Regions from separate parts of the Homo sapiens genome. Here region 2 is linked to region 1. The links come from fine-mapping of genetic effects on gene expression. A gene starts in region 1. The other region holds a variant in brackets. All regions are shown on one strand. Distances are between the middles of the regions. Region 1 holds the start of UBE2E1 (ubiquitin conjugating enzyme E2 E1). Region 2 has its middle 22 kb from the start of LINC00691.

Region 1 (4,387 bases):
TAAAATACTATGATTCCTTGAGTATATGTTTCTCCTGGAAGGTTTCTTATATTTTCATCAATTCTAAGTTATAAAAACCCCATGTCCTCTTTTCTGCCCTGGTGACGAAAAACAAAAACATAAAAGCAACAAATAACCCCAAACCCATGAACTAAGAAAATTCCACTAGAGTGGAATTATTAATAATTTACTTTGCGTAACAGCTAATAAATCACCTTACTTACAGATACATATTTGACCTTGCCAGTCAGTAGAGCACAGGTATTTCTGCCCTTTATGGATGAGGGAACTGAGGCTCAGGGAGGTCAATTTAGCTTTTTAGGCCTTGTAGTTAATAAGAAGGAGAGATAGAAAGTTGTGTATGAATTTTTTTTCCCCTAAGACAGCTGCATACAGGTCTTAAAAATAATTCGACATAAAGATTAGTCTTTTGAGAGGACTGGATTCTTTTCTAAACATTTTGAAGTTTTTATTCCCTGTCATCAGGTCATTCCAAAACGATAAAGCACTAACTTAAGCTAGCTGGAATTAGAGATTAGGGGGAACAGTACACAAAAGAGGGCAAGAAACCTTCCAGACAGGTGGTTGGGAAATCACTTTTCCTTATAGGAGGAGCTGTTAGATTTCATGATTTCTTTCACAAGGAATCAGTCCAACCCAAGCATCAGTAACACAACACAAAATATCATGTTCTGTTACAAAAGAATTCTTATTATAGCTGGTAGGCAATTTATGCAAACCAATATTAAAGAAAAAATTCACCTACTGTCCTGATCACTTCAGCAAATCAAACCTTTTATTTTCCTGTGATCTCTGCTAGTTCTTGTCTTTATAACACATGATTTTTTTACTGGTTGTATTCATAATGTAGACATATATTTTTAAGTATCAGAAATCCAAATTTTCATAGGAGGAAATTTCAATTTTAATAACTATTTTTAGATTATTTTCCTCATCCTGAGTTTATTTCATCTTCTTATTGTTTTCTTCTGAATTTACATCTTTTCATCAGAACAAAAAGAATACAATCAGTTTTTCAGAAGTTTAAAAAATTTTTTCAAATATATAGCAAAGAATGTCATCATTTTTATATACTCTACCAGGACTCCTGAAACCAAACACTTAAGAAAGGTTATGTCTGGAAATTTTTTCAAAATCTATATGCATTTCAGTGGTGGAGAAATAGTTCTGTCTGGAAGCAGGAGGCTGAAATTATGACCCTGAAGATTTCTTCCAGCTTTTGAACTTCTTATTCTATGACAACTCCTGGTAGATACAGGTTTCCTGGTAGGGATTGAGCAAGAAGCATGCACAATTACTTTATGAGTCTTGATAAAGCTGGAATTTCAGGTTGATGGTTAGAAGGAGTTCGGCTGGGTCGTGAGAATGCTTGTTTTCCTGGTTACTGGATATGCCATGGGCTGTATATCTTGTGTTGTCCTGTGGTAACTGAAGCCACTGTTGCTGTGGAAAATGATGGCAGTTTGAATGAGATAATTTAGAGTGACCTATGGAAATCTGAGGCTGTCTCCTTAATGTACAAGACCTTGTATGTGTGGCACTGTTGTATTTGAATGGCACACATCTCTTTAGTTCCCTTCAACTGAAATGACAAAAGGTGAGAAACTGAATCGTAATTTGATGGCTTAATATTAAAAAAAAATTGGCAAAAATGCTAAATAAGGAACAATTCAGAAGAATTGCTGATCATTTCAAAAATATTATTTGCATAGCATTTATAGGTAGCTAAAGAAAGAGAAAAATGGCTTAATATTTTAAAAATAATTTGGTCAATTTAGCGATCTGGGGATTCTGCGATCCCCAGAACTTTGCATCCAATTTCCAAAAACCAAACCTTACATCTAATGTAAAATGACACAAAAAATTCTAAATCCAGTCTAATTCAGTAGTATATAGCTTATTCCCAGTGATGTCTCACATTCGCAAGCCCGTTACACGTTGGTTTTACCTGTCACCAAAACCTTTGTATCACTCTTATAAAAAACCACATCACTTTCTATAAAAAGTGAGTGGAAGAATCTAATATTGTAAAACTGCACGTGCCTCGCGTGACCTGAGCAGAAAATTCCTAGTTTGGGATTTTCTCACAGGCATACCTAAACTGACCTCTGCTCCTAGCAGGTAAATTGCTAGAAGGAGAAGCAAGTGTCAGTCCAAAGAAAACCCTTGTTGTGTGATTTTTTTTTTCTCTTTAATCGCTTTTTAGGTGGAGTACCCGCTGCATTCTCTAAAGTCTTTGCCACCACCAGATTACCAACGTTTTCACCAATTTGCCACCTCCCTACTCCTCTCCTTTCCAAAAGCCCTCATTGGAAAGAACTTTCTCTCGTGACCCCCCTATTCCATCTAGTTCCAATCACTCCCAGCGCCCCCCATCTCCATCGGCTTCCCCTCTCCCGCCCAGAATCCAGGTTCCCAAACCACTTAAGAGAAAATTCACAACCCTCGCCCCCTTCCCGGGCGTCCGGAGGAGGCGCTGGGGTGGGGGTGTCTGTGGGGGACAGGGTTTCCTGGGGTCTCCTGGGTCTTCCTCGCGCACCCCCAGGAGGTGTTGCAGGGGGAGGGGAGCGCGGGTGGGTGGGACCGGGCCGGGTGGGGGAGGGGTGAGGGCGAGGAGGAGGAGGAGGAGGAGGCGGCGGCGGAGGAGTGGTGTGTGTGCGAGCGTGTGTGGCTGGGGGAAGCCATTGCCTGTTTAATAGTTGCTGTTGCTGCACTTCCGCTTCTCTCCCAGCGAGAGAGAGACACGAGTGGCCAGGCCCAGCCGCAGCCGCAGCAGCAGCCGCCGCGGCGGCACGGAGGAGCCAGACACAAAGAGAGGTACGGGGATCCCCCCAGCGGCCCGCCGCCCCCCGGCCGCGCCGCCGGGCCTCGGGGACACCCCTCGCCGCCTCCCCCGACTCGCGCCGCCGGGGCCGCCGGGCCGCAGGGCACGGGGCCGGCGCGGGGGGGGAGCGGAGAGGGGCTGGGGAGCCCCAGGGGTCCGGGGCCCGCCCGCGGGGGATGGGCAGGGACCCCGGGCCGCGTGGGGTGCGGGGGCCGCCCGCATTGAGGACGGGGGTCATTGTGGCTCGAACTGTCAGCGCTGCCCCAAGAGCCCCCCACTGGCCACCGAGGGGCCCGGGAGCGGGGGTGGGAGGGAGTTGGGGGAGCCCCGTTTTCCCCAGGGGCGGGGGTTCGCGGGGATTAACCCCTCCGGGGCGGAAGGGCTCATTGTTATGTCTTCGCTGCGGAGGCCGACCCCCCCATTCCCCGCCGCAGCCCCTATCCCCCTACAGGAGTGGCGATCGGGCGTGTGCTCCGGACCCCCGCCCGGCCGCATAGCTGTGAGCAGGGCGGCCAGAGGCAGGCAGGCCGGGAGGGGCGTCGGGGCGCGGCGCGGGGGGGCCTCGGGCCTCGTCGCCCCTGCCCCCCGCCGGCCTCTCCCTTCCCCCACCCGGGCACCCGCTCCCCGCCTCCGTCCCCCTGTTTCGGCTTCCTCTCTTACTCCTTCCCGCCCCTCCTCTCTTCCCGACCTCGCCAAACTCCGCTCGTGGCCCCACAGTCTCACCCGGGCCACCGGCCCCTCACGACCCCCGGAAAGCGGACAAAAACAGCCCCGAGGCCGGCCGGCCGCCGGGACCTTCCCTCCCTGCCCCGCCGTGGCGCCCCGCGCCCCCCGCCCTGCCCTCCTTCGCCTCCCGGGCTACTCCCTCCCTGCCCAGCGGAGAGCCCCGGGGGGCGAGGGAGGGGCCTCTCTCCTAGCTCCAGACCGTTTTCCCACAGCGTTCCCCACTTGGGGCCAAAAATAAACAAGCCGCGTCCGATTTGCAAAAGCCTTAATGGGCCTGCAGACTTTGAAAAGCGAGTGGAGGGCGGTGGGCGGCCGCGTGCGCCCCTGGTCAATGCCCTCCTGACAGCACCCGAGTTCCTTATTTACACTGGCTGCATGGTTTGTGTGTTTCTGTTTTGTTTCTCTCCCCCTGCAGGGGCTGTTTGCGGGGTGGGGTGGGGGGTTCGCTATGTCGGATGACGATTCGAGGGCCAGCACCAGCTCCTCCTCATCTTCGTCTTCCAACCAGCAAACCGAGAAAGAAACAAACACCCCCAAGAAGAAGGAGAGTAAAGTCAGCATGAGCAAAAACTCCAAACTCCTCTCCACCAGCGCCAAGAGGTACTGTGCTCTTTTTTTTTTCCACAGGCTTCCTATTTCCGAACTGCCTCTTGCTGCATTTGGTCTGCCTCCCAATGAGGATAGCTTAAACGCTCCTCATGGTTTATGTGTTCTTAAAAATGAAAGAAGGGCCTTGGAAGCCCTAATTATTTTCTCTATTGCTGCTTCTGTTTTTAAATCATTGCTCACATGCAGCTGTTGCGGCTTGCCTCTCGC
Region 2 (4,387 bases), 280 kb after region 1:
CACTGTGTTGATAGTTTAATATATAAAGTATATGTAAAAATTTCATTTAATCATCACAATAGCCATACGAGCCAACTTAAAATTTAATTTTACAGATGAAGACACTGAGGCTCAAGGGTGTTAAAATGGCTTGTCCAAAGTCACTAACACAGTAAGCATCAGGTCAGATATTTTACTTGAGGCCTCTCTAAATCTTCTGTGTTGTGGAGCTAGGTTTTTATGGCTTTGAAAGTCACACATTTCTTCTTTAGCTAGTATGCTGCTGCTGTTTAACTCTAATTTTACTAAAAATAATTTAAGAGTCTTAGACAGCATTAAAATGACAATGCCTTTTTCTTTTCATTTTATTTTTTTGGTATTTTCTTTTCTTTTTTTAAATTTTATTATTATGATACTTAAAGTTGTAGGGTACATGTGCACAATGTGCAGGTTTGTTATATATGTATACATGTGCCATTTTGGTGTTCTGCACCCATTAACTCGTCATTTAGCATTAGGTATATCTCCTAATGCTATCCCTCCCCCCTCCCCCCACCCCACAACAGTCCCCGGTGTGTGATGTTCCCCTTCCTGTGTCCATGTGTTCTCATTGTTCAATTCCCACCTTTGAGTGAGAACATGCGGTGTTTGGTTTTTTGTCCTTGCGGTAGTTTGCTGAGAATGATGGTTTCCAGCTTCACCCATGTCCCTACAAAGGACATGAACTCATCATTTTTTATGGCTGCATAGTATTCCATGGTGTATATGTGCCACATTTTCTTAATCCAGTCTATCATTGTTGGACATTTGGCTTGGTTCCAAGTCTTTGCTATTGTGAATAGTGCCCCAATAAACATACGTGTGCAAGTGTCTTTATAGCAGCATGATTTATAGTCCTTTGGGTATATACCCAGTAACAGGATGGCTGGGTCAAATGGTATTTCTAGTTCTAGATCCCTGAGGAATCGCCACACTGACTTCCATAATGGTTGAACTAGTTTACAGTCCCACCAACAGTATAAAAGTGTTCCTATTTCTCCACATCCTCTCCAGCACCTGTTGTTTCCTGACTTTTTAAAGATTGCCATTCTAACTGGTGTGAGATGATATCTCATTGTGGTTTTGATTTGCATTTCTCTGATGGCCAGTGATGATGAGCATTTTTTCATGTGTCTTTTGGCTGCATAAATGTCTTCTTTTGAGAAGTGTCTGTTCATATCCTTTGCCCACTTGTTGATGGTGTTGTTTGTTTTTTGTCTTGTAAATTTGTTTGAGTTCATTGTAGATTCTGGATATTAGCCCTTTGTCAGATGAGTAGGTTGCAAAACTTTTCTCCCATTCTGTAGGTTCACTCTGATGGTAGTTTCTTTTGCTGTGCAGAAGCTCTTTAGTTTAATTAGATCCCATTTGTCAATTTTGGCTTTTGTTGACATTGCTTTTGGTGTTTTAGACATGAAGTCCTTGCCCATGCCTATGTCCTGAATGGTATTGCCTAGGTTTTCTTCTAGGGTTTTTATGGTTTTAGGTCTAACATTTAGGTCTTTAATGCATCTTGAATTAATTTTTGTATAAGGTGTAAGGAAGGGATCCAGTTTCAGCTTTCTATGTGTGGCTAGCCAGTATTCCCAGCACCATTTATTAAATAGGGAATCCTTTCCCCATTTCTTGTTTTTGTCAGGTTTGTCAAAGATCAGATAGTTGTAGATAAGCGGCATTATTTCTGAGGGCTCTGTTCTGTTCCATTGGTCTATATCTCTGTTTTGGTACTGGTACCATGCTGTTTTGGTTACTGTAGCCTTGTAGTATAGTTTGAAGTCAGGTAGCATGATGCCTCCAGCTTTGTTCTTTTGGCTTAGGATTGACTTGGCGATGCGGGCTCTTTTTTGGTTCCATATGAACTTTAAAGTAGTTTTTTCCAATTCTGTGAAGAAATTCATTGGTAGCTTGATGGGGATGGCATTGAATCTATAAATTACCTTGGGCAGTATGGCCATTTTCACGATATTGATTCTTCTTACCCATGAGCATGGAATGTTCTTCCATTTGTTTGTGTCCTCTTTTATTTCATTGAGCAGTGGTTTGTAGTTCTCCTTGAAGAGGTCCTTCACATCCCTTGTAAGTTGGATTTCTAGGTATTTTATTCTCTTTGAAGCAATTGTGAATGGGAATTCACTCATGATTTGGCTCTCTGTTTGTCTGTTATTGGTGTATAGGAATGCTTGTGATTTTTGTACATTGATTTTGCATCCTGAGACTTTGCTGAAGTTGCTTATCAGCTTGAGGAGATTTTGGGCTGAGACGATGGGGTTTTCTAGATACACAATCATGTCATCTGCAAACAGGGACAATTTGACTTCCTCTTTTCCTAATTGAATACCCTTTATTTCCTTCTCCTGCCTGATTGCCCTGGCCAGAACTTCCAACACTATGTTGAATAGGAGTGGTGAGAGAGGGCATCCCTGTCTTGTGCCAGTTTTCAAAGGGAATGCTTCCAGTTTTTGCCCATTCAGTATGATATTGGCTGTGGGTTTGTCATAAATAGCTCTTGTTATTTTGAGATACGTCCCATCAATACCTAATTTATTGAGAGTTTTTAGCATGAAGGGTTGTTGAATTTTGTCAAAGGCCTTTTCTGCATCTATTGAGATAATCGTGTGGTTTTTGTATTTGGTTCTGTTCATATGATGGATTACATTTATTGATTTGCACATGTTGAACCAGACTTGCATCCCAGGGATGAAGCCCACTTGATCAT[T/G]GTGGATAAGCTTTTTGATGTGCTGCTGGATTTGGTTTGCCAGTAATTTATTGAGGATTTTTGCATCGATGTTCATCAGGGATATTCGTCTAAAATTCTCTTTTTTTGTTGTGTCTCTGCCAGGCTTCTGTATCAGGATGATGCTGGCCTTATAAAATGAATTAGGGAGGATTCCTTCTTTTTCTATTGATTGGAATAGTTTCAGAAGGAATGGTACCACCTCCTCTTTGTACCTCTGGTAGAATTCGGCTGTGAATCCTTCTGGTCCTGGACTTTTTTTGGTTGGTAAGCTATTAATTATTGCCTCAATTTCAGAGCCTGTTATTGGTCTATTCAGAGATTCAACTTCTTCTTGGTTTAGTCTTGGGAGGATGTATGTGTCCAGGAATTTATCCATTTCTTCTAGATTTTCTAGTTTATTTGCGTAGAGATGTTTGTAGTATTCTCTGATGATAGTTTGTATTTCTGTGGGATCAGTGGTGATATCCCCTTTATCATTTTTTATTGCATCTATTTGATTCTTCTCTGTTTTCTTCTTTGTTGGTCTTGCTAGGGGTCTATCAATTTTGTTGATCCTTTCAAAAAACCAGCTCCTGGATTCATTACTTTTTTGAAGGGTTTTTTGTGTCTCTATTTCCTTCAGTTCTGCTCTGATTTTAGTTATTTCTTGCCTTCTGCTAGCTTTTGAATGTGTTTGCTCTTGCTTTTCTAGTTCTTTTAATTGTGATGTTAGGATGTCAATTTTAGATCTTTCCTGCTTTCTCTTTTGGGCATTTAGTGCTATAAATTTCCCTCTACACACTGCTTTGAATGTGTCCCAGAGATTCTGGTATGTTGTGTCTTTGTTCTCGTTGGTTTCAAAGAACATCTTTATTTCTGCCTTCATTTCATTATGTACCCAGTAGTCATTCAGGAGCAGGTTGTTCAGTTTCCATGTAGCTGAGCGGTGTTGAGTGAGTTTCTTAATCCTGAGTTCTAGTTTGATTGCACTGTGGTCTGAGAGACAGTTTGTTATAATTTCTGTTCTTTTACATTTGCTGAGGAGAGCTTTACTTCCAACCGTGTGGTCAATTTTGGAGTAGGTGTGGTGTGGTGCTGAAAAGAATGTATATTCTGTTGATTAGGGGTGGAGAGTTCTGTAGATGTCTATTAGATCCACTTGGTGCAGAGCTGAGTTCAATTCCTGGATATCCTTGTTAACTTTCTGTTTCATTGATCTGTCTCATGTTGACAGTGGGGTGTTAAAGTCTCCCATTATTATCGTGTGGGGGTCTAAGTCTCTTTGTAGGTCACTCAGGACTTGCTTTATGAATCTGGGTGCTCCTGTGTTGGGTGCATATATATTTAGGATAGTTAGCTCTTCTTGTTGAATTGATCCCTTTACCATTATGTAATGGCCTTCTTTGTCTCTTTTGATCTTTGTTGGTTTGAAGTCTGTTTTATCTGAGACTAGGATTGCAACCCCTGCTTTTTTTTTATTTTCCATTTTCTTGGTAGATCTTCCTCCATCCCTTTATTTTGAGCCTATGTGTGTCTCTGCATGTGAGATGGGTTTCCTGAATACAGCACACTGATGGGTCTTGACTCTTTATCCAATTTGCCAGTCTGTGTCTTTTAATTGGAGCATTTAGCCCATTTACATTGAAAGTTCAT

Evidence for each region. PIP is the estimated chance that this variant, and not a neighbour inherited with it, causes the effect.
Region 2: its variant is fine-mapped to the expression of UBE2E1 in whole blood (TOPMed, PIP above 0.99).

The regions. Positions count from the first base shown.
Region 1 is chr3:23,803,251-23,807,637 of GRCh38, forward strand. It overlaps UBE2E1 (ubiquitin conjugating enzyme E2 E1), which reads left to right and starts at 2,705. Exons shown (of 6, transcript NM_003341.5): 1 at 2,705-2,838; 2 at 3,987-4,171. The coding sequence starts at 4,020. It overlaps UBE2E1-AS1 (UBE2E1 antisense RNA 1), which reads right to left and starts at 3,655. Exons shown (of 2, transcript NR_046652.1): 1 at 3,569-3,655; 2 at 774-1,464. RefSeq lists silencers at 2,641-2,750, 2,831-2,960, 3,151-3,450, 3,651-3,830 and an enhancer at 4,131-4,220.
Region 2 is chr3:24,078,575-24,082,961 of GRCh38, forward strand. No RefSeq gene overlaps it. Among named protein-coding and RNA genes, the nearest start is that of LINC00691, 22 kb to the right of the region's middle. The variant T/G (reference allele first, on the strand shown) is at 2,735.